Homo sapiens: one gene and its partners. The protein of the gene in region 7 purifies or fractionates together with the protein of the main gene of each other region. This does not show direct contact. Each region holds a gene or a part of one and is shown on either strand. Other genes may lie near its edges. The genes, in order: RAB2B, SNRNP27, RLIM, ATP1A3, MAP4K2, NKIRAS1 and NAA30.

Evidence for each region.
Region 1: the proteins of NAA30 (region 7) and RAB2B purify together in Homo sapiens (co-immunoprecipitation; one large-scale study listed by IntAct). This does not show direct contact.
Region 2: the proteins of NAA30 (region 7) and SNRNP27 purify together in Homo sapiens (co-immunoprecipitation; one large-scale study listed by IntAct). This does not show direct contact.
Region 3: the proteins of NAA30 (region 7) and RLIM purify together in Homo sapiens (co-immunoprecipitation; 2 studies listed by BioGRID and IntAct, with this or other methods). This does not show direct contact.
Region 4: the proteins of NAA30 (region 7) and ATP1A3 purify together in Homo sapiens (affinity purification with mass spectrometry; one large-scale study listed by BioGRID and IntAct). This does not show direct contact.
Region 5: the proteins of NAA30 (region 7) and MAP4K2 purify together in Homo sapiens (co-immunoprecipitation; 2 studies listed by BioGRID and IntAct, with this or other methods). This does not show direct contact.
Region 6: the proteins of NAA30 (region 7) and NKIRAS1 purify together in Homo sapiens (affinity purification with mass spectrometry; one large-scale study listed by BioGRID and IntAct). This does not show direct contact.

Annotation. Positions count from the first base shown.
Region 1 is NC_000014.9:21,463,460-21,466,959, forward strand, and holds part of RAB2B (ras-related protein Rab-2B), read right to left. Parts: intron 2,412-3,500; exon of another isoform or gene 2,058-2,411; intron 309-2,057; coding exon 197-308; intron 1-196. UniProt on the Homo sapiens protein: The small GTPases Rab are key regulators of intracellular membrane trafficking, from the formation of transport vesicles to their fusion with membranes. Rabs cycle between active GTP-bound and inactive GDP-bound states.
Region 2 is NC_000002.12:69,896,956-69,900,455, forward strand, and holds part of SNRNP27 (U4/U6.U5 small nuclear ribonucleoprotein 27 kDa protein), read left to right. Parts: intron 1-421; coding exon 422-501; intron 502-3,500. UniProt on the Homo sapiens protein: May play a role in mRNA splicing.
Region 3 is NC_000023.11:74,604,625-74,608,124, forward strand, and holds part of RLIM (E3 ubiquitin-protein ligase RLIM), read right to left. Parts: intron 1-3,500. UniProt on the Homo sapiens protein: E3 ubiquitin-protein ligase.
Region 4 is NC_000019.10:41,970,231-41,973,730, reverse strand, and holds part of ATP1A3 (sodium/potassium-transporting ATPase subunit alpha-3), read left to right. Parts: intron 1-3,188; coding exon 3,189-3,343; intron 3,344-3,422; coding exon 3,423-3,500. UniProt on the Homo sapiens protein: This is the catalytic component of the active enzyme, which catalyzes the hydrolysis of ATP coupled with the exchange of sodium and potassium ions across the plasma membrane.
Region 5 is NC_000011.10:64,796,715-64,800,214, forward strand, and holds part of MAP4K2 (mitogen-activated protein kinase kinase kinase kinase 2), read right to left. Parts: coding exon 3,395-3,500; intron 2,970-3,394; coding exon 2,891-2,969; intron 2,766-2,890; coding exon 2,707-2,765; intron 2,124-2,706; coding exon 2,080-2,123; intron 951-2,079; coding exon 912-950; intron 821-911; coding exon 787-820; intron 667-786; coding exon 561-666; intron 479-560; coding exon 390-478; intron 310-389; coding exon 268-309; intron 180-267; coding exon 95-179; intron 1-94. UniProt on the Homo sapiens protein: Serine/threonine-protein kinase which acts as an essential component of the MAP kinase signal transduction pathway.
Region 6 is NC_000003.12:23,903,491-23,906,990, reverse strand, and holds part of NKIRAS1 (NF-kappa-B inhibitor-interacting Ras-like protein 1), read left to right. Parts: intron 1-3,500. UniProt on the Homo sapiens protein: Atypical Ras-like protein that acts as a potent regulator of NF-kappa-B activity by preventing the degradation of NF-kappa-B inhibitor beta (NFKBIB) by most signals, explaining why NFKBIB is more resistant to degradation.
Region 7 is NC_000014.9:57,407,586-57,411,085, forward strand, and holds part of NAA30 (N-alpha-acetyltransferase 30), read left to right. Parts: intron 1-1,793; coding exon 1,794-1,931; 3' UTR 1,932-3,500. UniProt on the Homo sapiens protein: Catalytic subunit of the N-terminal acetyltransferase C (NatC) complex. Catalyzes acetylation of the N-terminal methionine residues of peptides beginning with Met-Leu-Ala and Met-Leu-Gly.

The DNA of each region.
Region 1 (3,500 bases), about 36 Mb from region 7:
TGGTCACAAACTCCTGAGCTCACGCAATCTGCCTGCCTTGGCCTCCCAAAACGCTAGGATTACAGGCATGAGCCACCGCGCTCGGCCAAGACATCCTTTCTTTACCAATTTCTTATAGGAGAAGAGAATTCTGAATACAAGGACAAATAATGGTGTAATCTCTAAAGAGCTTTCCCCACTGTTTTCCAAATAGTACCTCTTCAACATTGCAGGCTGTTTTGGCTGAAGTTTCCATGAATATAAGTCCATGCTCCCTAGCAAAGGCCTCTCCTTCTTCTCTCTTCACATCCCTGCGGGACTCTAGGTCACTGCAAGAGATTAATTAAGGAGAAAATTTAAAAAAAAGATCCAAGTGAAAGAGGAAAGTCTATTTCTAAAAGAATTCCGTCGTGGTTTCAACTGCCAGTTATTTCATAAAGAATGTAGATCCTACATGATACTCTTATACAGAGTTACTGATTTTTGTAGCATCTTGGAAAATATTCTTTAGTTTTGGGACAGCTGCTGCATAGTTGAAGATAATACCTCACTCTATTACAGAGAAAATGGCTTATCAAGGGTTAGGCAAGCCCCCATAGTTACACAAAGCTTATGCTCTATTGCTTGTTTTTCCAATGAGATCAAGGAGAGCAAAGTATAGATGAGGAAAAAAAAAAACTTGGCTGGGCACAGTGGCTCATGCCTGTAATCCCAGCTCTTTGGGATGCCGAGGCAGGTGGATCACGAGTTCAGGAGTTCAAGACCAGCCTGGCCAAGATGGTGAAATCCCGTCTCTACTAAAAATACAAAAATTAGCTGAGTATGGTGGCAGGTGCCTGTAATCCCAGCTACTCGGGAGGCTGAGGCAAGAGAATTGCTTGAACATGGGAGGCGGAAGTTGCAGTAAACTGAGATCGCGCCATTGCACTCCAGCCTCAGCGACAGAGCAAGACTGTCTCTTGGGCGGGGAAGAAAAAAAGGAAAACTCTAGTTACTAGAAAGCAGAAAAGTCATAAGATGTCCCATCCAGCAGTGATGAGCATCTTCCTTTTTTACTGGAATCAAGCCACAAGAAGAGAATGAGCCAGGAATAAGGAAAACACAGTTGTCTTAAGTCTCACTGGTTTCGTTACTAGTGCATATAAAAGCAGCTTGCCACCAGGGAATTCAGAGACAGTGATATGGATAAAATTAGGTGAAAAAAAAGATAAGAGCTAAGGACTGAAAAAGGGAATAAAAATGGCAACAAAAGACCTTATGAAAAACAGGATAAAAGGCTGCAGAGCTGGGCGTGGTGGCTCATGCCTATAATCCCAGCACTGTGGGAGGCTGAGGCAGGAGGATTACTTGAGCCCAGGAGTTTAAGAACAGCCTGCACAATACAGTGAGACCCTGTCTCTACAAAAATTTAAAAATCAGCAGAGCGTGGTGACACATGCCTGTAGTCCCAGCTACGTGAGAGGCTGAGGTGAGAGGATCTCTTGAGCCCTGGAAACAGGTTGCCGTGAGCTGAGCACGTTACTGTACTCCAGCCTGGGCAACAGCACGAGACCTTGTCGCAAAAAAAAAACAAAACCAAAAAAACAAACTGAAGAATAAGGCAAGGTTGGGCTGTTTGTGATTCGTATTTTTCAATTTGAAAATTTTCATTTGGGAGGTTTCCAGTTTTCCAACTCCTTGGAAAAAAAGTGTAAGACCATTAAAGAACAACAAATCTACAATATTTTAATTTATTATACCATCAGCTGTGTGAAGACCAGGGAAGATCTAAATGTCAACCCTCCCAAATTTGTACCTCTAGCCCAGATGCTTGACTAAGCACCAGATTTGTACATTTGTGAATTCTTCATTTCCACACTGATACATAAAACGGACTTCAAACTTAACACATCAAAATGGAACTTCTTTTCCCCTAGCCTGTGTTTGCTGCAGGCTTCTGTATCTCAGTAAATGGCATAAGCCAAAAACCAAAGTGTTATTATTGATACCCTTTGCTCCCTACTCCAAATATCTAATCCATTCCAAAGTGAAGTACTTCCAATATGTACCTTAAAATTATCCTTTCTTTCTCTTTCCAGGGTCACTTCCTAGACCAAGCTACCATTCTTTCTCATGTGGACTATTGCAACTGGGATACTACTTCAGTCCTTGTTCTCCTCCAGAGTGATCTTTTAAAATCTGATCAAGCCACTTCTCTACTTAAAACTTTAAAATGCTTCAGGTGTATTTATTTATTATTATTTTTAATCCCCCATCTCCCAAGCTTCAATTTCCATGTATTTAGAATAAAATCCAAAACCCTTACTCAGGCCTCTAAGGTGCTATAAAATCTGGTCCCTACCTACTTTTCCAACCTCATCTTGCACTATTCCCTCTTGATTTAGTCCAATCACACTAGGTTTCTTTCAATAAACGTGTCAAGCTTCTTCCAAGTTCAAGGTGTTTGTATAGTTTGTTCCCCCCAAGTAATACCCTTTTAAAAAAATCTTTGCCCAGCAGGCTCTTGCCCATCCTTCAGATCCCAGCTTAATATCACTCCTAATCAAAAGTAGGTACCCTGTTATTCTTTCGTAGCACCCTTTTTCCTCCATTGCATTTATCACAATTTACAATTTGATACAAATAATTTTATATTTAACATCTATGCCCCCACTAGACTGTAAGCTGCACAAGAGCAGGGGGACGACTTTTTTCCACCTTGCAAACTCAGAATCTGGCACAGTCGTTTTCAATACATTGACTGATACACTAAAAATAATTAGCAGGATGGGTGTGGTGGCTCACGCCTGTAATCCCAGCACTTTGGGAGGCCGAGGCAGGCGGATCGCCTGAGGTCAGGAGTTCAAGACCAGCCTGATCAACATGGAGAAACCCCGTCTATACTAAAAATACAAAAAAATTAACTGGGCTTGGTGGCACATGCCTGTAATCCCAGCTACTCGGGAGACTGAGGCAGGAGAATCGCTTGAACCCAGGAGGTGGAGGTTGCAGTAAGACGAGATCATGCCATTGTGCTCTAGCCTGGGTGACAAGAGTGAAACTCCATCTCATAACAAACAAATGAAAACAAACAAACAAACAAAAAACCAATTAGCCTGTGGCCACAGTTCTCAAATAGTACACTCTGGGCACTACTACAAACTCACAAGGGTGCCATGGGATACCTCAAACTTTTGAGAAAAACACAGTAACACTCAACACAAGGATACTTACTACATGAATTACAAGCTTAAGACAGTTGCAATGTCAATATCAGACCATGATAAAATTCGTTCAATATCTTCATATCTCTGAGAAGCTGTTTCTGGCAGTTGCTGTTATAAAAAAGCAAGCACTACACAAAAATCAATATGAAATGGGAAATGAGAGTAGCAGTGTGCAATCGTGATTCCAAGGTTTGAGAAGCTATGCAGTGCCCAACAGACACATAGAGGTCTTTAGTAAGTAACTGTTGCTATTTAAGAATGAAATAATTTTTTTTTTTTTGAGACAAAGTCTCACTCTGTCGCCCTGGCTGGAGT
Region 2 (3,500 bases), on a different chromosome or scaffold from region 7:
GAACCACCGTGCCCAGCCTGAGATTTTGTTTTAATTGCACCCTAGCAAGTTGCTGGTTATCTATGGTGCTCCTGATATAGAACGATAGTTAAAAACATGAGAATATTCTATTTTGGAAGTGTCTTCAGAACTATATAGTGTCATGCCTGATATTAAAGGTAGTCCTTAATATGAAACCCAGGTTTTTTTTTAAAAGGTAATCCTGTCTAAAGGCTTCAAGGAGAGGACTTTTTTTTTGTACCATAAGTTACATTCTGTCCAAATGTAAGAGGAATTTTTTCATTAGACTCATCTTCAGCTAATTGTTTTGTGTGTTCTCTGCTAGTGAGGTGGAATGACTATTAATCTGTTACCACCTCTCTTTTTATTTATGTATATATTTGAAATGATAGAGAGGTCACAAAATTATTCTTTTTTGCAGAGGAAGACTTAGAGGGCAAAACAGAGGAAGAAATAGAAATGATGAAGTTAATGGGATTTGCCTCCTTTGACTCCACAAAAGTAAGTAAAACGTGCAACATTCTCATTTGAATTAATATGTTATGACTGTCCTATCTTTCCATGTTCTTTTCCATTTATACAAATTTATTTGGTTATAAGACAATAACTATCTGTTTGAAGGGCTTTGAGAATACAAAGGAGGAAACAGTGAACTGCCATTGGAATTCAGGGAGTGGTTGCCAGGGACGATGTTTGAATTAGATTTTAAAGGACAAGTAGAAGTGATCAGACAAAGAAGAGGAAGAAGATTATTTCAGGTAGAGGGAAGAGCTCATGAAAATGCCATGTAGGTGTAAAGGAGCATAGTGTATTGTGGGAATTTCAGATTCGACCAGGGATAAAGGGGTGCTGATGGGCTAGTGACTTAGGCTAGAAATAGAGGTAGGAGGCAAATCACAGAGGGCTTTTGATGCCCTTAGTCATGCTAAGGAATTCAGAGTTTATTCTTTTGGTGTTGAGGAGAGGAAGTAGTGATTTTTAAATAAGGGAGTGGCATGGTTATATGTGTGTTTTGGAATAATGACTCTGGGGGCAGCATGGAGGACAGATGGGAGGTGGGTTAGATTGAAGGCAGGGAGAACTGCTGATTTGTGCAAGTGAAAGATGATAAAGGCCTGAACTGAGTTGAGAATGATTCAGGAGCTGGGGGAAGTGGGAGTGAGTAGTTAGTAATGCCTCTCAGGTGTCAGGCTGGGACCCTGAGTGATACAGTTAACCCAGAACAGAGTTTCTGGAAGGGGAACTGCTGGGAAATGGAAGAACAAAATCCAGCTGCCAGATAGAGATGACATTGGGCAGCTGCATACTTGTCTCATAGCTTAGAAGTGGGGTGGATAGGGGAGGGAATGCTGTCTAGCCTTCATAATAGCAGAGAGATGAGGGAAGAGGAAAAAGAGGGAGGGATTATATAGAGGAGGGAGAGCATAGAGCGAGAGATGGGGGAAGAGAGAGATGGGTATAGAGAGAGGAAATGAAGAGAGGAGAGGGGATGGAGAGAGGGAGGGTGTGTGGAAAGAAAAACATATTTTTTAAAATCTCTTTTCTAGAATTTTAAGTCTTTCCATTTAGTTTTGCAAATGGAAATAGAGATGTTTGAGAAAAAGTTGTCAAAAATAATCCACTTTCCCAAGTCTTGTATTCCATTGAGTTGCTAATGGAATGGGGTAATCTCAGTGGCTGTAAGTTTCTTTCTAACTAATGTGACTGTGTAGGGCTCACATGTTTTAAAATGACAGTGTGTAACTTAGGAGTACTGAGGCATGACTGTTTTGAGGTGAGAAATTAAGAACAAGCTCTTGTTCTTGCAATGGTTATGTGAGCTCTGTTTTGGAATTTAATGAAGTTTATTTATCAGCTTTTTTCCCTTGAATGCCCTAAATTCTTATTTATTTTCCAAAGACTATTTTATAAATGAAAGTTTATTAAGATATATGTTGGGTGAAATGTAAGTTTATTAAGATATATGTTGGGTGAATTAAAATATGTCAAAAGTAAAGCAACTATAGTTTTATTGTCTTTAGAAGAATGGGGAGGGAACTTTTTCCCCAAAGAAAATGGAATTATTTTCTTTGTTTTTTGGTTTTCCTGTTGCTGGATGTTAGGTTTAAAGTTCCTGAAAGTCAGATCTAAGGGTGGTGCCACCCATCACTTAAATGTAGTCAGTGAAGAAGATGTTTGCTTATAAAGGAAAACTTAGGTGAAAAGTCATAGATCTTAAAAAAATTATGGAGTACCATCACACTAATTGATGTCAGTTTTTTAAAATGACATCTACAAGGATGTCAATTTAGTTTATATGCAGTTGGCTTCATGGCTATCAGTTATAACGTCAGCTCATTTGTGTTTTTAAGTAATGTGTGTCTTGTGATGTTTCATCATTGATCTATTGTGGGACCTCTTCATATGCCAGTATAGTCACCCATTTTCCTTTCTATTTGATTGTATTTTCATTTTTTTATTTGTATTATTTTTTATTTTAATTTTATTTTTTCGAGACAGAGTCTCGCTCTGTTGTCCAGGCTGGAGTGCAGCGGCGCAATCTCGGCTCACTGCTACCTCCGCCTCCTGGGTTCAACCGATTCTCCTGCCTTGGCCTCCCAAGTTGCTGGGATTACAGGCGCCTGCCACCACGCCTGGCTAATTTTCGTATTTTTAGTAGAGATGGGGTTTCGCCATATTGGCCAGGCTGGTCTCGAACTCTTGGCCTGAAGGGATCCACCTGCCTTGGCCTCCCAAAGTGCTAGGATTACAGGCGTGAGACATTGCGCCCGGCCTCATTTTTTAGTTTTTTAGAGACAGGGTCTTGTTTTGCCACCCATACTGGAGTACAGTGGTATGATCATGGCTCACTGCAGCCTGACCTCCTGGGCTGAAGCAATTTCCCTGCCTTAGCCTCTGGAGTAGCTGAGAGTAGGCACATGCCGCCACGCCAGGATAATGTTTTTATTTTTTGCAGAGATAGGGTCTTGCTGTGCTGCCTAGATTGGTCTTGAACTCATGGCCTCAAGAAATCCTCCTGCCTCAGTCCATTTTTTTTTTTTTATTTTTGAAGAGACAGAGTCTTCCTATGTTGTCCAGGCTGTACTCAAACTCCTTGGCTCAAGAAATCCTCTTGCCCCAGCCTCCCAAGTAGCTGGGACTGTAGCCTCACAGCAATGTGCTTGGCTTTTCCCTTTCATCTTATTAGATTGGTGGAAAAGTAATTACAGTTTTTGCCATTGAAAATAATGGCTAAAACTGCAATTACTTCAATAACATTTTTCTAGATGGTTTCAAAGTTTGGTTTTGTTTATTAATGGATAATTTTCTATGCCAGCATGTAAATAAATGAGGATAGGGCTAATAATATGCAATTCTGCAAATAGTTTCCAGAAATCAGTAAACCTTTAGGAATCGAACTTTGTAAAAAGGTTATCATCATTTACTTTTTTGTGCCCAAGACCAGTCTTTCTAAGTCATGCTTACTTCCTATTATAGGGAGTTCAAAATCATATACCTCA
Region 3 (3,500 bases), on a different chromosome or scaffold from region 7:
ATTCATTCTTGACCTTTTAGAATTTCTACCATTTCCTACATAGAAACTAGAGACAAAACATTTTACCTCCATTCAAAATTTTCCTGACACTGATTTCAGAGATTTTTGAATCCTAAACAGCTCCTGCTTGATGAGCTTGGATTCCGTTCCATGAAAGAGGGAATTCTAAATTTTATTTAATTCAAAATTTTAATGAGACACACTCATAAAGCAACATGTGAACAAATCCAAATCACTACCTCTTCAATAATAATAATATGCTGCTGTCTCCTTTCCTGCTACCCTTCCATATATATGCCAGAGACAATCAAGGAAAATATTTTCCCCATGATACTCCTGCAACACACTTATTTCAAAGCCTCCATCCTTTCTGCCTTAACTTAGCATTTCCCCTGGGCTGGAATTGGGGGTCAAGAGATTTCAGCACTGGCAAGGCACTCCCTCCCTTATAAGGGAATTCAAAGAGTAAGCTATGGCTACAATACCTGCAGAGGTCCCCTGGACTAGACATAATTACATTTGCAAAGAAAATGGAAATCAAGGCAATGCTCTCAAATGCCTTGTAAACTAATTTTACTCTCACACACCCAATGAGCCTGGTCTTATTTTAAGCAGACCTTCACTATCTAAGCGGCATAAAAGAAAGAAATGGAATAAATCTAAAAACCACAAGTTCTGCCCCAGGTAGATATAATCTGCCACTATTGTTTACTAAGTGCAAACAAACATTTTAAAGTTTAGGCATGCCAAAAATACCAGAAAACCATACTCCAAATGATCAAATACAGCTCTATCTCCATTTTGGGTGTGAAAATATTAGTGAAGAATAACATTAACAAAACAGGTCTCCAGATTCTACTTTGCAGTGAGTAACATTGTGGTACATTTCTAGCTTAAGTAGCAAGAGGAAAAAGAGAATCCTTATACACCGCTGGGATCTTTCAACATCATCGTAAAAGAGAAGGTCATAAATCCATTTCTTTAGTTATCTCAGATAAGTCAGAAATTCTGACTTCAGCATATGATTAGCATCAGCTGTTTTTCTATGAAAAGATTACCCGTGAAACATACAGTAATTTAAACAATGAAATATAACTGTTTTGAAGTCACTTAGGTCTCTCTCTGGCTATAAGCAATACTCATCACCCTGTATTTACATAGCCCTTACACCTGTATTTCATTTAATCTTCACAATAATCCCATGAATTAGGAATCACCACCTCTACAGGTGACAAACAGAAGCACAGAGAAAGAAAGTGATTTACCAAAAACCATGTGACTAGTAAGTGGGAAAGGGCCAGTAATTAAATCCAGGTCTCTGCATTCCAAATCCAGTCAACTTTTCACTAAGACAACTGCCTCCCAACATATCCCAAGACTCTATACTTTAAAACACATTCCTTCCTTCAATCCCAATAGGTATGACTAAACTATTCAATCTATGAGCTTTTTATACCATGTTCACTCCCTGTATGAAAAATTCCAAAATGACAAAACACCTTTTGTAAGCAGCACAAACCTAGATGGACTTATTTTTAAATAAGTCAACTTTTAGTAATTTTTAAAAATACAGTTGCTCCTTAGATAAACAGCATATTTTATTAACCTTATTTCTTTTAGAGTACTGTGTGCCAATATATCCAAATCCATTCCTGGAAACAAGAAACCAAATGAGAAATTTTGCCCAATCGTTTCAAAGAGCTACTCATCTGGTCAATGAATGGGACTGTATCCAGTAAGTTTAATTCTGGGGAGGAAAGGCCAGCAAGAACACCAACCCTGAGATTTATTTAAAACAGATTTTATTCACTTTGAGAATTTTAAAGTATTGTTAATAATCTCAACTTCTTCTAGTCATTATTATATATTAATATAAATTATGCAAATGACTGTTTCTGATTACTGCTAAATGTAGTATCTCATTTAATTCTTCTAATCCATGCACACCAAACTTTTAAAAAATTTAATTGTTATAATGTTAAGGCAAAAAGTTATTTAAAACATATTGTTCAGTACTAACAGGTCAGGAGACCTGGTGCTAAGTATAAACACAGGCATGTTATATTTGATGGACACACTACATTATAGTACCCAATTAAGGAGACTTAAGGCATCCAAAAATACTGTTAATAAAACAGACCTTACAAAACTAAATTCTGAAACACCAAGTGAAATGCCTGTGTAAAAACCAATTTTAAAAAGTGAGTCATCTTGGCTGGGCATGGTGCTGGCCGAGTGTGGTGGCCGACATCTGTAATCCTAGCACTTTGGGAGGTCGAGGTCGGCGGATCGCTTGAGCCCGGGAGTTCAAAACCAGCCTGGGCAACATGGTGAAACCGTTTCTACCAAAGACACAAAAACTTAGCTGGGCATGGTAACGCGCATCTGTGGTCCTAGCTACTTGGGAGCTGATGTGGCTGAGGTGGGAGGATCACTTGAGTTTGGGGGCAGAGGTTGCAGTGAACTCAGATCACGTCACAGCAGTCTAGTCTGGGTGACAGAGACTCCATATCAAAATTTAAAAAGTCATATGGAAGAAATTACCTCGTTTTTTAAAAAAAGTGGGGTGGGTGGGAGGGAGGAATTAAGGTAACGTAACATCAACTAACTACTAAATCATGTTGAATATTTCACCTTGTGCATATGTGTTCATTCAAGCTCCAAATTCTATAATAAAGTTCTAAAGCAGGACATGCCAATTTTTAAAAAATTATGGGTATGAACACAAAAATGTGTCACACTGACAAGAGAAGGGCAATCCATTTTGTTTGCAACAGAGCTTCATCAAGAATCTCATAAAGGAGGCTGAGTACAGTGGCTCATGCCTGTAATCCCAACACTTCGGGAGGCCGACGCGGGCGGATCACCTGAGGTCAGGAGTTCAAGAGCAGTCTGGCCAACATGGTGAAACCCTGTCTCTACAAAAATACAAAAATTTGCCAGGCATGATGGCAGGTGCCTGTAATCCCAGCTACTCAGGAGGCTGAGGTGGGAGAATTGCTTGAACCTGGGAGGTGGAGGTTGCAGTGAGCAGAGATCGTGCCATTGCACTCCAGCCTGGGTGACAGAGCGAGACTCCGTCTCAAAACAAACAAACAAAAAACCACACACCAAAAACACACACACACAAAAAAAACAAAAAAGAACTTCATAAAGGAGTCCTTTAAGAACTAGTGACATGTGATCTGTGTCAATGAAGAAAATGTTAAATACCATCACCAAAATGAAAAATACTTTATTCAGTTTTTTAAAAGTTAAATCACAAAGAACTGCTGAATTTAAGGCCAGAAAACAAAAAGTACCATCATATCATTACGTATGTAGGCACCAAAAGTGTTGGGGATTCTTCATATATAGAATGTTTAATTAAAATGTTATGGTATTTGTAACAGAAAAATATTTGCTAACAACCAGGTATCTTTTTTTATTCTACACATGGGTAGCAGGGTGAAACTCAGCTCTGTGAAAGGAAAAAAGAGATACTGAAATCCAGTCTTGGT
Region 4 (3,500 bases), on a different chromosome or scaffold from region 7:
CACAGGGCTGGAGAGACAGCCTTAAACAAGTTAACAGATATGTAATTACAAATTGTGATATATGCCCCGAAGAAAGCAGGCCGCTGTGATAGATAATAGTGAGGGTCCTGCCCAGATGGGGTGGACAGGGAAGGCCTCTCTGAAGTGAGGGAAGAAATACCTAACTTCCGTCAGGGGCCAGGCACGGGGGCTCACGCCTGTAATCCCAGCACTTTGGGAGACCAAGGCGGGAGGATCGCTTGAGCCCAGGAGTTCAAGACCTGCCTGTACAACAAATTAAGACCTCAAAGATCAAAAAATTTTAAAAATTAGCAGGGCGTGGTGTTGCACACCTGTAGTCTCAGAGACTTGGGGGGCTGAGGCAGGAGGATCACTTGAGCCTGGGTGGTCGAGGCTGCCATGAACCATGATGGTGCCACTGCACTCCAGCCTGGGATAGAGCGAGATCCGAGACCCTGTCTCAAACAAACAAACAAAATAACTTCCAACGGGGGCATTCCAGATATACCCAAAAGTAAAGCAAAGGCACAGTGGGCCCCTGCGCCTCCATCCCACCTGCAGCGGCAGTCAGCGCACGGCACACCTTGTTTCTTCCCCACCACCTGGAACACACACTGGATTATGCTGATGCACATTTGTCACCATTTCATCCATAAATAGTTTAGGATGAGAAACCCCTAGTTTGTGGAGAAGAGCACAATGCAGGGAACGAGAATATCAGGTGGGAGCGGCCCAGGCCCTTATTGCTATGCAAGAGACATCAAAGCAATCAAAGAAGCCACACCACAGGCAGCCTGCTTCACCTTCCCTTCCCTCCCTCCCTCCCTTCCTCCCTCCCTCCGTCCCTGCCTGCCTGCCTTCCTTCCTTCTTTCCTTCCTTCCTTCCTTCCTTCCTTCCTTCCTTCCTTCCTTCCTTCCTTCCTTCCCCTTCCTTCCTTCCTTCCCCCTCCCCTCCCCTCCCCTTTTTTTGATGGAGTCTTGCTCTGTTGCCAGGCTGGAGTGCAGTGGCGTGATGTTGGCTCACTGCAACCTCCACCTCCCAGCTTCAAGCGATTCTTCTGCCTCAGCTTCCCACATAGCTGGAACTACAGGCACACACCACCACTCCCAGCTAATTTTTTGTGTTTTAGTAGAGATGGGGTTTCACCATGTTGGCCAGGATAGTCTCGATCTCCTGACCTCGTGATCCACCCGCCTCAGCCTCCCAAAGTGCTGGGATTACAGGTGTTTGCCACCGTGCCCGCCTGTTCTTTCTTAATGATTGACCTCATTGTTCATGGGCTAATCTTTTTACTTATTTATTTATTTAGAGACAAGGTCTCACTCTGTTGCCCAGGCTGGAGCGCAGTGCTGCAATCATCAGTCACTGCAACCTCGACCTCCTCAAGTGATCCTCCCACCTCAGCCTCCCAAGTAGCTGCGACCACAGGCTCGAGCCACCGTGCCTGACTAATGTTTATTTTATTTTATTTTATTTTTTTGAGATGGAGTCTTGCTCTGTTGCCCAGGCTGGAGTGCAATGGCACAATTGCGGCTCACTGCAACGTCTGCCTCTGAGGTTCAAATGATTCTCCTGCCTCAGCCTCCCAAGTAGCTGGGGTTACAGGTGCCCACCACCACGCCCAGCTAATTTTTGTATTTTTAGTAGAGATGGGGTTTCATCATGTTGGCCAGGCTGGTCTTGAACTCTTGATCTCAGGCAATCCTCCTGCTTCGGTCTCCCAAAGTGTTGGGATTACAGGTGTGAGCCCCAGCGCCTGGCCTGGATTAATCTTTATTTTGTTTACTTTAGACAACCTGTACTGGTTGAATATTTATTGAGATATGGCATGCATACAGTGAGTTGGGCATATTATATCTCATTAAAATATTCAACCAGACAGGGTGTATAAATTTTTACACATGTACACAGCCATGCAACCACCAGACCCCAGTCAAGATAGAAAACCATTCCAGCCCCCCATTTAGGTTTTGTCTGCTCTCTTCCAGTCTATATCCCTCCTCCTAGACATAACCATTATCCTGACTTTTAGCCCAGAGACGGGTGCTGAGCCTGCTCCAGTTGGAGTTGGATGCTAAGAATGCTTTTGTGTCTGGCTCGTGTCACTCAGCACGGGATCCAAGGTCCAGCTGTGGAGTTGTGTCCGTAGCTCGCCCCTTCTTGCTGTGTAGTATTTGACTGCATGGATGTACCGTGGTTTATTCATCCCTCACCTGTTGATGGACATGGGGTTGACTCTGGCTTTTGGCTCTGATGAGTGGTGCTATGGTGAACATTCTCGTACTTGCTTTTCGCTGGGCATAAACAGTCCTCCTCTCTTTTGGGTATAAAACCTAGGAGTCGGATTACTCGGTCGGTGGGGTGGGGGATGTTTGATAGCAACTCCGAAACCATCTTCCAAAGTGGTTATTTCAAGAATGTTTCCACAAAGGCGATGTGGTTGGATGTTTATGTGGAAAGGTAGGTGGGTGAGGGGCCAGGTGTGGAGACTTATGCCTGTAATCCCAGCACTTCGGGAGGCTGAGATGGAATCACAGCCCAGAAATTAGACAAGCCTAGGAAAAGTGGTGAGACTCTGTCTCTACTAAAAATACAAAAATTAGCTGGACGTGGTGGCGCGTGACTGTAGTCTCAGCTACATGGGAGGCTGAGGCAGGAGGATCACTTGAGCCTGGGAGTCGAGGTTGCAGTGAGCCGTGATCATGCCACTGCACTGCAGCCTGGGCAACAGAGTGAGACCCTGTCCCAAAAAGAAAATAATGGTGGGTGGGCTGGGGGGTAGAAAAGGACGCTGGACAGGCCGGGCGCGGTGGCTCACGCCTGTAATCCCAGCACTTCAGGAGGCCGAGGAGGGCAGATCACGAGGTCAGGAGATTGAGACCATGCAGGCTAACACAGTGAAACCCCGTCTCTAATAAAAATACAAAAAAATTAGCCGGGCGTGGTGGCAGGTGCCTGTAGTGCCAGCTACTCGGGAGGCTGAGGCAGGAGAATGGCGTGAACCCGGGAGGCGGAGCCTGCAGTGAGCCGAGATCGCACCACTGCACTCCAGCCTGGGCAACACAGCGAGACTCTGTCTCAAAAAAAAAAAAAAAAAAAAAAAGGACGTTGGATGAGGGCAGAGGAGGGGCAGAGGGAGTGGGGCTCCCTGGCATGGGCGCCTGCTCTGAGCCTGCCTGTGCCACAGGCCGCCTGATCTTCGACAACCTAAAGAAGTCCATTGCCTACACCCTGACCAGCAATATCCCGGAGATCACGCCCTTCCTGCTGTTCATCATGGCCAACATCCCGCTGCCCCTGGGCACCATCACCATCCTCTGCATCGATCTGGGCACTGACATGGTGAGCCCTGGCAGCCACCCTTGGGGCCCAGGAGGGTGGAGTCCTCCCCTCTCCGGCTCACCCGGCCTCCTCCGCCTAGGTCCCTGCCATCTCACTGGCGTACGAGGCTGCCGAAAGCGACATCATGAAGAGACAGCCCAGGAACCCGCGGACGGAC
Region 5 (3,500 bases), on a different chromosome or scaffold from region 7:
TGCCAGTTTGGGCATGGGGTCAGAGGTCAGACATGGCCCCTGGCCCAAGCTGAGGGATTCCTTGGGCTCCCGCTTCCTCCCTGCCCCCACCTACCCCGAGTAACAGGGTGAATCCAGGTGACAGCAGCGTGGATCCGCAGGGGGCAGCCATTGAAGACCTTGGAGAAGCAGGCGCCCATCTGCAGAGGAGGCAAGAGGCTGGCGAGGGAGTGCAGGGGTGGTGGGTGGCAGGGCTGTGGGACTGCAGGGCTTGGGGCAAACACTTACATGCACCTTGGGAGTTGGGGGGAGCCCGTGGCAGGATGACCTCTGGGAGGGAGGAAAGGAGTCAGGGCTGATATGACAGCTGTAGCCGCCCGTCTCCCCACCCCACTGTAGCACCCTCTTACCTCAGGATCCTCCCGCTGCTTCATGGTGGCCCAGGCCGTGGGCAGCAGTGGGGAGCTGTTGGGGCCTGAAGGAGGTGGGGGCAGGGTTCCTGCAGGCACAGGCGTGCTGTAATTTCCTGCTGTAGCCCCCACCCTGGGGCTGCCTCCTGGCCTCCCAAGCCTGAGACTCACCTGGGGGACTGGACAGAGGCTCCTCTGCTGGAGGGTCAGTGGGGAGTGGCCCTAGGAACGGGGCCCGCTTGATGGTTCCCATGGTATCGTCTGGGGAGTCCAGCTCCTGGTAGGAGGGGCAGGGCCCAGCCCGGCCGTTACCAGGTTGCCCTGTAACCACATCCCACTCCAATCGTACCCTCTGCAGTGGCCTGGATCCCAGCTCCAGCCTCCCTCTGTGTGGCACCTGGAATTCTGAGGCTGACCGAATAGTCAGACTCCTGTGGGAGGGAGATGAGGCGTGAGGCATGAGGTGTGACTGGCACCAAGGCCACCTGCCCCTTGCCCCTCCCCCAGGCCCACATCCCTCACCTTTCCTCCAGGGCCTCCTGGACCGACTGCAGCAGGCTCCTGGGCAGTGGGGAAAAGGGGTCAGAGGTCAACCTTTCCTTTTTTTTTTTTTTTTTTTTGAGACGGAGTCTCGCTCTGTCACCCAGGCCGGAGTGCAGTGGCGCAATCGCGGCTCACTGCAAGCTCCGCCCCCCAAGTTCACGCCATTCTCCTGCCTCAGCCTCCCAAGTAGCTGGGACTACAGGCGCCCGCCACCGCACCCGGCTAATTTTTTGTATTTTTAGTACAGAGGGGGTTTCACCGTGTTAGCCAGGATGGTTTCGATCTCCTGCCCTTGTGATCCGCCCACCTCGGCCTCCCAAAGTGCTCAGATTACAGGCATGAGCCACACCCGGGCTTTTTTTTTTTTTTTTAAGACAGAGTTTCATTCTTGTCACCCAGGCTGGCGTGCAATGGCAAGATATCGGCTCACTGCAACCTCTGCCTCCCAGATTCTCCTACCTCAGCCACCCTAGTAGCTGGGATTACAGGCGTGGGCCACCATGCCCAGCTAACTTTTGTTTGTTTATTTATTTATCTGAGATGGAGTCTCGCTCTGTTGCCCAGGCTGGAGTGCAGTGGTGCAGTCTCAGCTCACCGCAACCTCCGCCTCCCGGGTTCAAGCGATTCTCCTGTCTTAGCCTCCTGAGTAGCTGGGATTACAGGCGCCTGCCACCACACCGGCTAATTTTTTCTATTTTTACTAGAGACGGGCTTTCACCATGTTGGCCAGGCTGGTCTCAAACTCCTGACCTTGGGATCCGCCCACCTCGGCCTCCCAAAGTGCTGGGATTACAGGCGTAAGCCACCACAGCCAGCCTAATTTTTGTATTTTAAGTAGAGATGGGGTTTCACCATGTTGGCAAAGCTGGTTTCGAACTCCTGACCTCAGGTGATCCACCCACCTTAGCCTCCCAAAGTGCTGGGATTACAGGCATGAGCCACCCGCCCAGCCTAATTTTTGTATTTTAAGTAGAGGTGGAGTTTCACCATGTTGGCAAAGCTGGTCTTGAACTCCTGACCTCAGGTGATCCACCCACCTCAGCCTCCTAAAGTGCTGGGATTACAGGCATGAGCCACCACGCCCGGTCAGAGGTCAGCCTTTCTGCCGCCCCTGCCACCCCCTGCAGCTTCCCCATACCTCACTTACCCACTCAACTCTTCCTTTCCCAGTAGTGTCCACTCTTCCTCCCACTGGGGGAAACCAAGGTAGAGACCGGGGAAGAAGCAGAGACAGATGCAACGTGAGAGGGCGCTCAAGAGATTCAGGAAAGGAAAGACAGACAGACAGACAGACGGGAAAGGTGAGATGGAAACACACAGAAGATGAGAGAGACAGACAGTGGGAGGCAGAGCTGAAGACTGTGAAAGAAAGGGCAACAGACAGCGAGGGAGGAAGAGACAGGCTGGGGGGTGAGGAGAGACCAGTGACAGAGCCGATGAGGGCAGAGACAGAAAGTCAGACCACTGGGGACACACAGGTGGGAAAACGAGGCTGAGCAGGGTAGGGTGAGGGCTCAGGCACATGACGGCCTCCTTTTGGGAAAGGCATGGTCTCTGTGCTACCTTCCAGACACCCACCTAAAAGAACTTGGCCCAGGAAGGAGCCCCTAACCCTCCAGGTCCCTGGGTAGGACAGGCTTGCTTGGACAGTCTAAGGCCCAAGGCCCGAGGCCACCCAGCTTCAAATCTCCCTTGATTTGAGCTGCTCGGCCTCCATCCGACCTCCCTGCCCCACCTCTGGGCACCACCTTCCCCTCAAGGCCTGCCCACTCACCGGCTCATTCAGTGGGTCAGTTTCCTTCCTGCGTGGGGCGCCAAATTTCACCTGGTGAACTGGGGGGCCCAGAGTACAAGAGTGAAGGAGCTGGAGTCTCAGGATGGACCTCTACTCACACCAAATCCATGTGCACACAGGCCCCCCAAAATCTGCACACACACAGCCCCTGCTGCAGACTCACACTGGATCTCCGAGGGGGTCCTCTCGGCTGGGCCGTGCTGCCCCCGGGAGTGAATGGTGTCTGGAAACATGTCATAGGTCTAAGGAAAAACAGAAACAGTGTGGACACACCTGGCACGCGCCTCATGCCGGGGCTGCTCTAGGAGCTTCACACGCACCAGTGCGTTTTGCTTTCATGACAGCCCTCTGGGACTACTGTAAAATAAAATGGAACCCCACTTCACAGATGAGAGAACCCACACAGAGCAGTGCCAAAGATCACACAGAAAGCAAGAAAATGGCACAGTCGTGGTCATGGTCAGCTTGGACTCAAGGGCAGGGACCTATCAAGGGGGTGGTACAGGAAACAAAAGTCAGCATGACAGAGACTCCTAATGGGAGGGCTCAGCTGAGGCCAGCTCCCTGAGCTGGAATGGTGCCAGTTAAAGGACCTCCACCAACATCACCCTCGGGCTCTTTCTAAGCAGACCAGCCCAAGACTCACTTTCCAGCCCCCCTCACCTACCTCCAGCTCACAGTCCTCAGGGGAGGGGGTCCCCAGATGAGGGTCACTGGCTTTGTCCAGCAGCTGTGTGAGGAGGGCCCGAGGGAGCTGCTGAGTCGTGAACGGG
Region 6 (3,500 bases), on a different chromosome or scaffold from region 7:
ACCCGGGAGGCAGAGTTTATCGTGAGCCAAGATCACGCCACTGCACTCCAGCCTGGGCAACAGAGCGAGACTGTATCAAAACAAAACAAAACAAAACAAAAACCTGCTTTAAAAAATAAAGGTTATTTTAAAATGTATAAGAGGTTACCATTATTTAAATTTGAAAAGAAGAATGTAAGTGAAAAATAGCCACTGCAAAGGATATAAGACACTCTCTTTGATGATAATGCCTATAAAATAAAATCTGTGTCTCCCAGACTGGAGTATAGTGATGCCATCTCACCTCACTGCAGCCTCCACCTCCTGGGTTCAAGTGATTCTCCATCTCAAAAAAAAAAAAAAAATCATAAGGAAGAAAAAATATATTTACTATTTATTAACTGGAAGTGGTTCATCGTAAAGGTCTTCATCCTCATTGTTTTTATGTGGAGTAGACTGAGGAGAAGGAGGAGGGATTGGTCTTGCTGTGTCAGGTGGCAGAGGAGAAAGAAAATCTACATGTAAGACATGTGAAGTTCAAATCTGTGTTGTTTAAGGGTCAGTGGTATTCTCAGCAGAGCAGTATAGTATACTGTGATTCTTTTTTTTGTTTTGTTTTCATGGAAGCCAACATGTATTTGTCATTTCTTTAGTTTTGTTTATACCTTTTGCTAGTTCTTTCCACATAGTCCAGATGTTTCTCAGTTCTGCATGAGGTCAGCTCCATCAGATAATCTATTTTTTTTCTTGGCTGTGTCCTTTCAGGAGCTCTGTGTCCTCTTATCTACTGTGCCACCATCATCATGGAACTTCCCCTTTGTTTCTCCCTTTGGTTTTTTTTTTTTTTTTTTTTGAGACGGAGTCTCGCTCTGTCACCCAGGGTGGAGTGCAGTGGCACGATCTCGGCTCACTGCAACCTCCACCTCCTAGGTTCAAGTGATTCTCCTGCCTCAGCCTCCCAAGTAGCTGGGATTACGGTCATGCGCCATCATGCCTGGCTAATTTTTGTGTTTTTAGTAGAGACAGGGTTTCACCATGTTGCTCCAGCTGGTCTTGAACTCCTGGCCTCAAGCAATCTGCCTGCCTCAGCCTCCCAAAATGTTGGGATTATAGGCATGAGCCACTGCACCCGGCCTCTCCCTGGTTTTGATTTCCTGTTTCCTAGATCTCTTGTCTTCTTTTCTTCTTTTGGCTTATACCTTTTTTTTTTTTTTTTGGAGCACATTTTCCAGTACTTTTCTGGGGTTGAAAAGGTTGTACAGTAGAACAGAACATCCAGTGATGATGGCCTTCAACATGCCCTCTACCTGGGACGTAGTCGTGACCCTGGGGCTTCCGAATTGAGATATTTACTAATTGTGCTTGTGATTTCCTTTACTTCATATCTGTGTTAGGTTCTGTTTCTTCCTGTTTCTATGATTACATATTAGTTTTTATGGAGGGTCTCCTCAAATAGTTTTCTGAGAAAATATACGTGATACATTTTCTGAGGCTTTGCATGTTTGAAACTGTCTTTATTTTACACTAACATTTGAATTGTAATTTTGATGGGTATGGAACTCTAGGTCAAAAATAATATACTTTCGGAATTTTGAAAGCATTGCATATATGGTTTAATAATTATAAGACAAACCTTCACATAATCTCCACATGGATCAAAAAGTACAACATTGAGGACAGGCCAGTGGCTCCCTGTGTTCCTCTGTCCAGTTGCAACTCATTCCTTCCCTTGACTTTTGGTTAATCATTCTTTTTATTTTTAATTGCCACATATGTGTGTCACTAAATGGTCTAGTTTATTTTTTGCCCTATGGATTTTCTATGAATTAAATTAATCCATGTCTGGCTTCTTTTACTCAACATTATATTTGTAAGACACATCAGGCCAGGCATGGTGGCTCACCACTGGAATCCCAGCACTTTGGGAGGCCGAGGTGGGAAGATCACTTGAGCCCCAGAGTTTGAGATCAGCCTGGGCAACATCAGGAGACCCCATCTCTATTTAGAAAAAAAAATAAAAGATTCATCCATTTTGCCGTAGCTGTGGTTGTTTACTTTTCATTGATGTAACATTCTATTGCATGAAACTACCTCTGTCTGTTAGGTCTTCATGAACATTTGGGTTATTTTCCAGTTTGGAGCTATTGGAAATAATGCTACTCTGGAACATTATTGTACATGTATCCTGGCTATTATGTGATAAATTCTGGTATACATATCTAGAAATTGCTGATTCATAGAAGGTGTGTCTCTTTAACTTTATCAGCTTCTATTGTCTTCTTGCTTCTAGTGCTACTTTTGAGAATCTGGGAACCATTATGATTCTTGATGCTTTGTCTGTGGAAACTTTTTTAGGCTCTCTTCTTTGTTCTTAGTTGCTGTGGTTTGAAGGATAGTGTCTCCTCCAAAATTCATGTTGAAACTTAATCTCCAATGTAACAGTATTAAGCACTGTGGCCTATAAGAGGTGATTAAATCATGAGGGCTCCACCCTTCACCTTCATGAGGACTAATCCCTCATGAAAGATTAGCATCCTTATAAAAGGGCTTGAGGTTGAAGGGAGTGCTCTCTTGCCCTTCTGTCTCTCCCACCATGTGAGGACACAGCATTTGACCCCTCCCAAGGATGCAGCAACAAGGCTCCATCTTGCAGTAGGGACTGTGCCATAACAACACACCAGACCTACTGGCACCTTGATCTTGGACTTCCCAGCCTCCAGAACTGTGAGAAAGAAATTTTCTATTTATAAATTACCCAGTCTGTGGTATTTTGTTATAGAAGCACAAATGGACTAAGACACCAGTGTTCTGAAATTTCAGTGATGCGTCATAGAATTGATCTTTTCTTTTCTTTCTTTTTCTTTTTTTACTCGGGTTGGAGTGCAGTGGCACGATCTCAGCTCACTGCAGCCTCCGCATCCTGAGTTCAGGCAATTCTCCCACTTCAGCCTCCCAAGTAGCTGCAATTACAGGTGCGCACCACCGTGCCCAGCTAATTTTTGTATTTTTAGTAGAGATGGGGTTTCACCATGTTGGCTAGGCTGGTCTTGAACTCCTGACCTCAGGTGATCCGCCCACCTTGGCCTCCCAAAGTGCTGGTATTACAGGTGTGAGCCCCCGAGCCTGGCCAGTCTGTTTTCATTTACTGTATTGGACACTTAGAGGGCCCCTTCTATATGGAAATGCATGTTCTTCAGTTTTGAATTATTTTGTTATTGCTTTCTTTCCTCTGTGTTCTCTGTCCTTGTTTTCTGGAACTCTCTTTTTGGATGCTGGACCTTCTGGACTAGTCCTTGAATTTTCTTATTGCCCCTTTCCTGTTTATCATCTCTCAATATTTTTGTACCACTTTTTGGTAGATATTCTTATCTTTATTTTCCAGCCCTTCTATTGAGTTTTTGTTAGTATCCTGTTCTTATTTCATGGATGTACTATCTTATTTTTTTGATAGATTAGGTAGTTTTTTGTTTGTTTGTTTTTGTTTTCTTTTCTTTGTATAGTTGGTTTCTCTGTAGCGGTCT
Region 7 (3,500 bases):
GGGTTCCAGAAACTGAAAATTCAGTGTTGAGCATGGAAAGCAAGAAGAGAGAGACCTAAAGCAAAGCTGAGGCCAATATATTGATGGACTTTTTATGTCTCTTGATATTATTTTTAGATTGTGGACTTTCTCTTGAGGACAAGAGGGAATCAGTAAACGGTTTTAAGTAGAGAATTAACAAGAGCATCACCCTAACTCTAGAGAGAATGGGAGACCTCTTGAGTTAGGAGGCTCTTGTAATTATAGTGAGAGTTGATGGCAGCTTGGACTGTGGTATATCGAGCATAGAAAGAAGAGGACCACTTAGAGATTTAAGAGGGAGAATTGACAATAATCAGTGCTTGGATGCATATAGGTGGTTGGAGAGGAATGAGGTTCAAAGATGACTCCTGGGTTTCAGGTTTGAGGCATTGGTGTGGTGGGGGGTGATCCTGTTTACTGAGATATGGAATTGAGGAGGAAGAGCAGATTATGAGTTCAATTTTGGATATAAGTTGAGGTACTGTCTTTATTATTTGCATCAGTTGTTTGCATTCTTGTCAGACTTTTTGATAGCTTGAGAAAGAACAGGAAGAGACTTATGCTTCACTTGGGCCTTTGTTTAATTATACTTTGCCATTTCCCCCCCACCCACTCCAAACACTTGAGGGTTATGACACCCAATAGTAACTGTGGCTCACTGTGTTGATAGTTCTCAATGAAATAAGTTGAGAAACAATTGAAAAGGCAAATAGAGCTACGTGTGTAAAAGTTGGGAAGATGGGGTAGAGGGTGTTAGAGGGAGGTAAAAATAAAATCGCAGTTTTCAAAAATACCAGTTATTCATTGTCAGGGCCACTGGCTCAGTAATATTTCAAAAGACTTAAATGAAAGTTAATACTATGTGTTCCTCTGTTAAGCTTTGCTATATAGACCAGTGGTTCTCAAAATGTGGTCCCTTGACCGCAGCAACATCATCATCTAGCAATTTAAAAATATTAAAAATGCAGATTCTTGTGTCCTACTGCAAACGTACTCATAAACTCTGAGGGTGGGGCTCAGCAATCTATTTTAACAGACCCTTCAGGTGATTATGATACACTGTAACATTTTGAATACCTCTTGTCTGGATTCAGCAAACTTTCTTGGTAAAAGGCCCACTAGTAATTATTTTAGGCTTTGTGGACCATAGGTCTTTGTGGCAACTGCTCAGCTCTGCCCTTGTATTGAGAAAGCCACCACAGACATCATGTAAACAAATAAACATGGCTGTTTGACTAAAACTTTATTTACAAAACAGCAGGCACATTTGGCCCAAAGTCTATAGTTTGCAGACTCTGGTCGAGACTCCAGACAAATATGGTAGTTATTGCCAGAATAAATGACATATTAATGAAAATACAGAAGTTGGAAGTCAATCTGAATAGCTGCTTATAATAATATAGCTTATTATTTTAAGGAAATAAACCAGCACTTTTGATTGTTGATTTTATTTTCATCTGTAGTCATTTTACCTTTCCCCACAGGGAAATAATTAATCTTTGTTTTAGTATAAAACATACTCTCATTGCTAAACATTTCAAACTACACAAATCAGTAGAACAGAAGATAAATCTGCAGTGGTCCTCCAAGCCCTTGACCCAAATATAATATTACAATCTTGATGACTGTTTTTGAGTTCTTTCTGTATATTATTTATTGTTTTCACTATCAATTTTTAAAATAATGTATGATTTTTTAAAAAATTGTTTAGTTGGTAAATTATTTTTTAAATTGTGTAATTATAACTTAGTTTTTTTCTCATTTCTTTGAAGGTTGTTTTGGAAACCGAAATAACAAATAAGTCCGCTTTGAAACTTTATGAAAATCTTGGTTTTGTTCGAGATAAGAGGCTGTTCAGATACTATTTAAATGGAGTTGATGCACTGCGACTTAAACTGTGGCTGCGTTGAGAAACTGACATCAAGGAACAACTATCATCCGCACAGAATCGACCTTTGCATGCAATGCAATTTGTACAGAATTGCTTTGCAGGTGGATTTAGTAATTTCCATGCAGCTCTTACCTGTCAGTGTCTCATTGAGTGTCGCACAATATTTGTTGCACTTTGGCATGGCACATTTGTTCTGAATTAAAAGATTGTTTTAAACTTCAGGAGTTCTTTTGGTACCAACAAGATGTGCCAGTTGATAGCCAAGATTTATGTGTTCATTTGCAAAGTCTGCTGACAATGTTATTTACACAGTGATCATTTTATCACAGAACCAGTAAGTGGAACATAATTTTTGTTCCTTAAAAAAGCCAATGTGGATTGTAAAAGTCTTTAAGTATACTAACATTTCACACAAAACCTGCCCTAGTTTTCTGAAGTGGGTGAGGGAGACGCTTCAGTTTTAGGTTTTATTTTTTCAATATTAAATTTTCCATTCTTGAATATTGGTACCTCAGTGATTAGTGAATGAAAAAAATGTAGGGTGGGTATGTCTTACAATGAGTAAAGGTAACAATTAAATTTTGTCTGCCAGTGCCTGTGTAGATAAGTATATTTGTCTTCATCTCTAGTTTTTGAATGCATGCTATCTTTTCCTTTTCTTTAAGGCCTTTGCAAGCAAACTTTTGTTTTTATTTAAATTCTAAATTTGATAAATTATTTCAGATTTTTATAATTTGGATACTTTTTTCAGGTGAATGAAAGAATGGTTTACTTTAGAAGTCCCTTTTTCCTTACAGTAACAAGTTGAATCTACTTGGAAAATTGAGAAATGGCTCAAAAGAGATAAGAAAAGTTGATGGAGCCGGGAATTGCTGGGGTTTAGATGCACTTTTTCTTTTGAGAGTAAGGGAAGTTTTGGAAAAGAATAGAAAATTAGTGTAAGTTGATATGATTTTATTTAATCAAAATTACTGCTACGCTGCGAAGAACAGCTTTTACAAAGTAGCTGAATTTGTTTTTCCCACTTGATTTGGATTCACATTGCTTTCATTTCTTAAAATGCTTCACTTCAGGTTCTTGGTCTTGGAAATAAATTTCAAGGTGCATTGTATCCATTTTAAGCTGCTTTATTTTATTTTCACTTGTATGAGCAAATTCTTGGGGGAGCTTTGCTTTTCTTCTGCCAGAAAAACAAAAGGGGGAAATGAAAATCTTTTTTGGAATGAGTTCTGTGGGTTTTCTTAACAGCCACCATGTTTATTAGTTACATTGTGTTTTGGCCAATCAGTGCAATGTAACAAATTTTACAGTTAATTGCTTTCAATTGAGTCAGTAAACCTGTGATAGATAATTTATTTAACTGGAAAACCTAGGTACCCATAAGAAAAAAGATTCATTCTCTGTGAAAACTGTAGGAATCTGTTGTTGTTTTCATTTGAATATGCTCTACTTCTGCTCTAGTATTTGGTTTGGAATATATTTTGTGGCTCTAATTACTGTATTTTTAAAAACCCTACCTCCATTAACAGTTGGTAAAGGCCCCTTTTCAGGAAAGTTTGTTGCTTTTTTTTTTTTTTTAAAGGAAAGC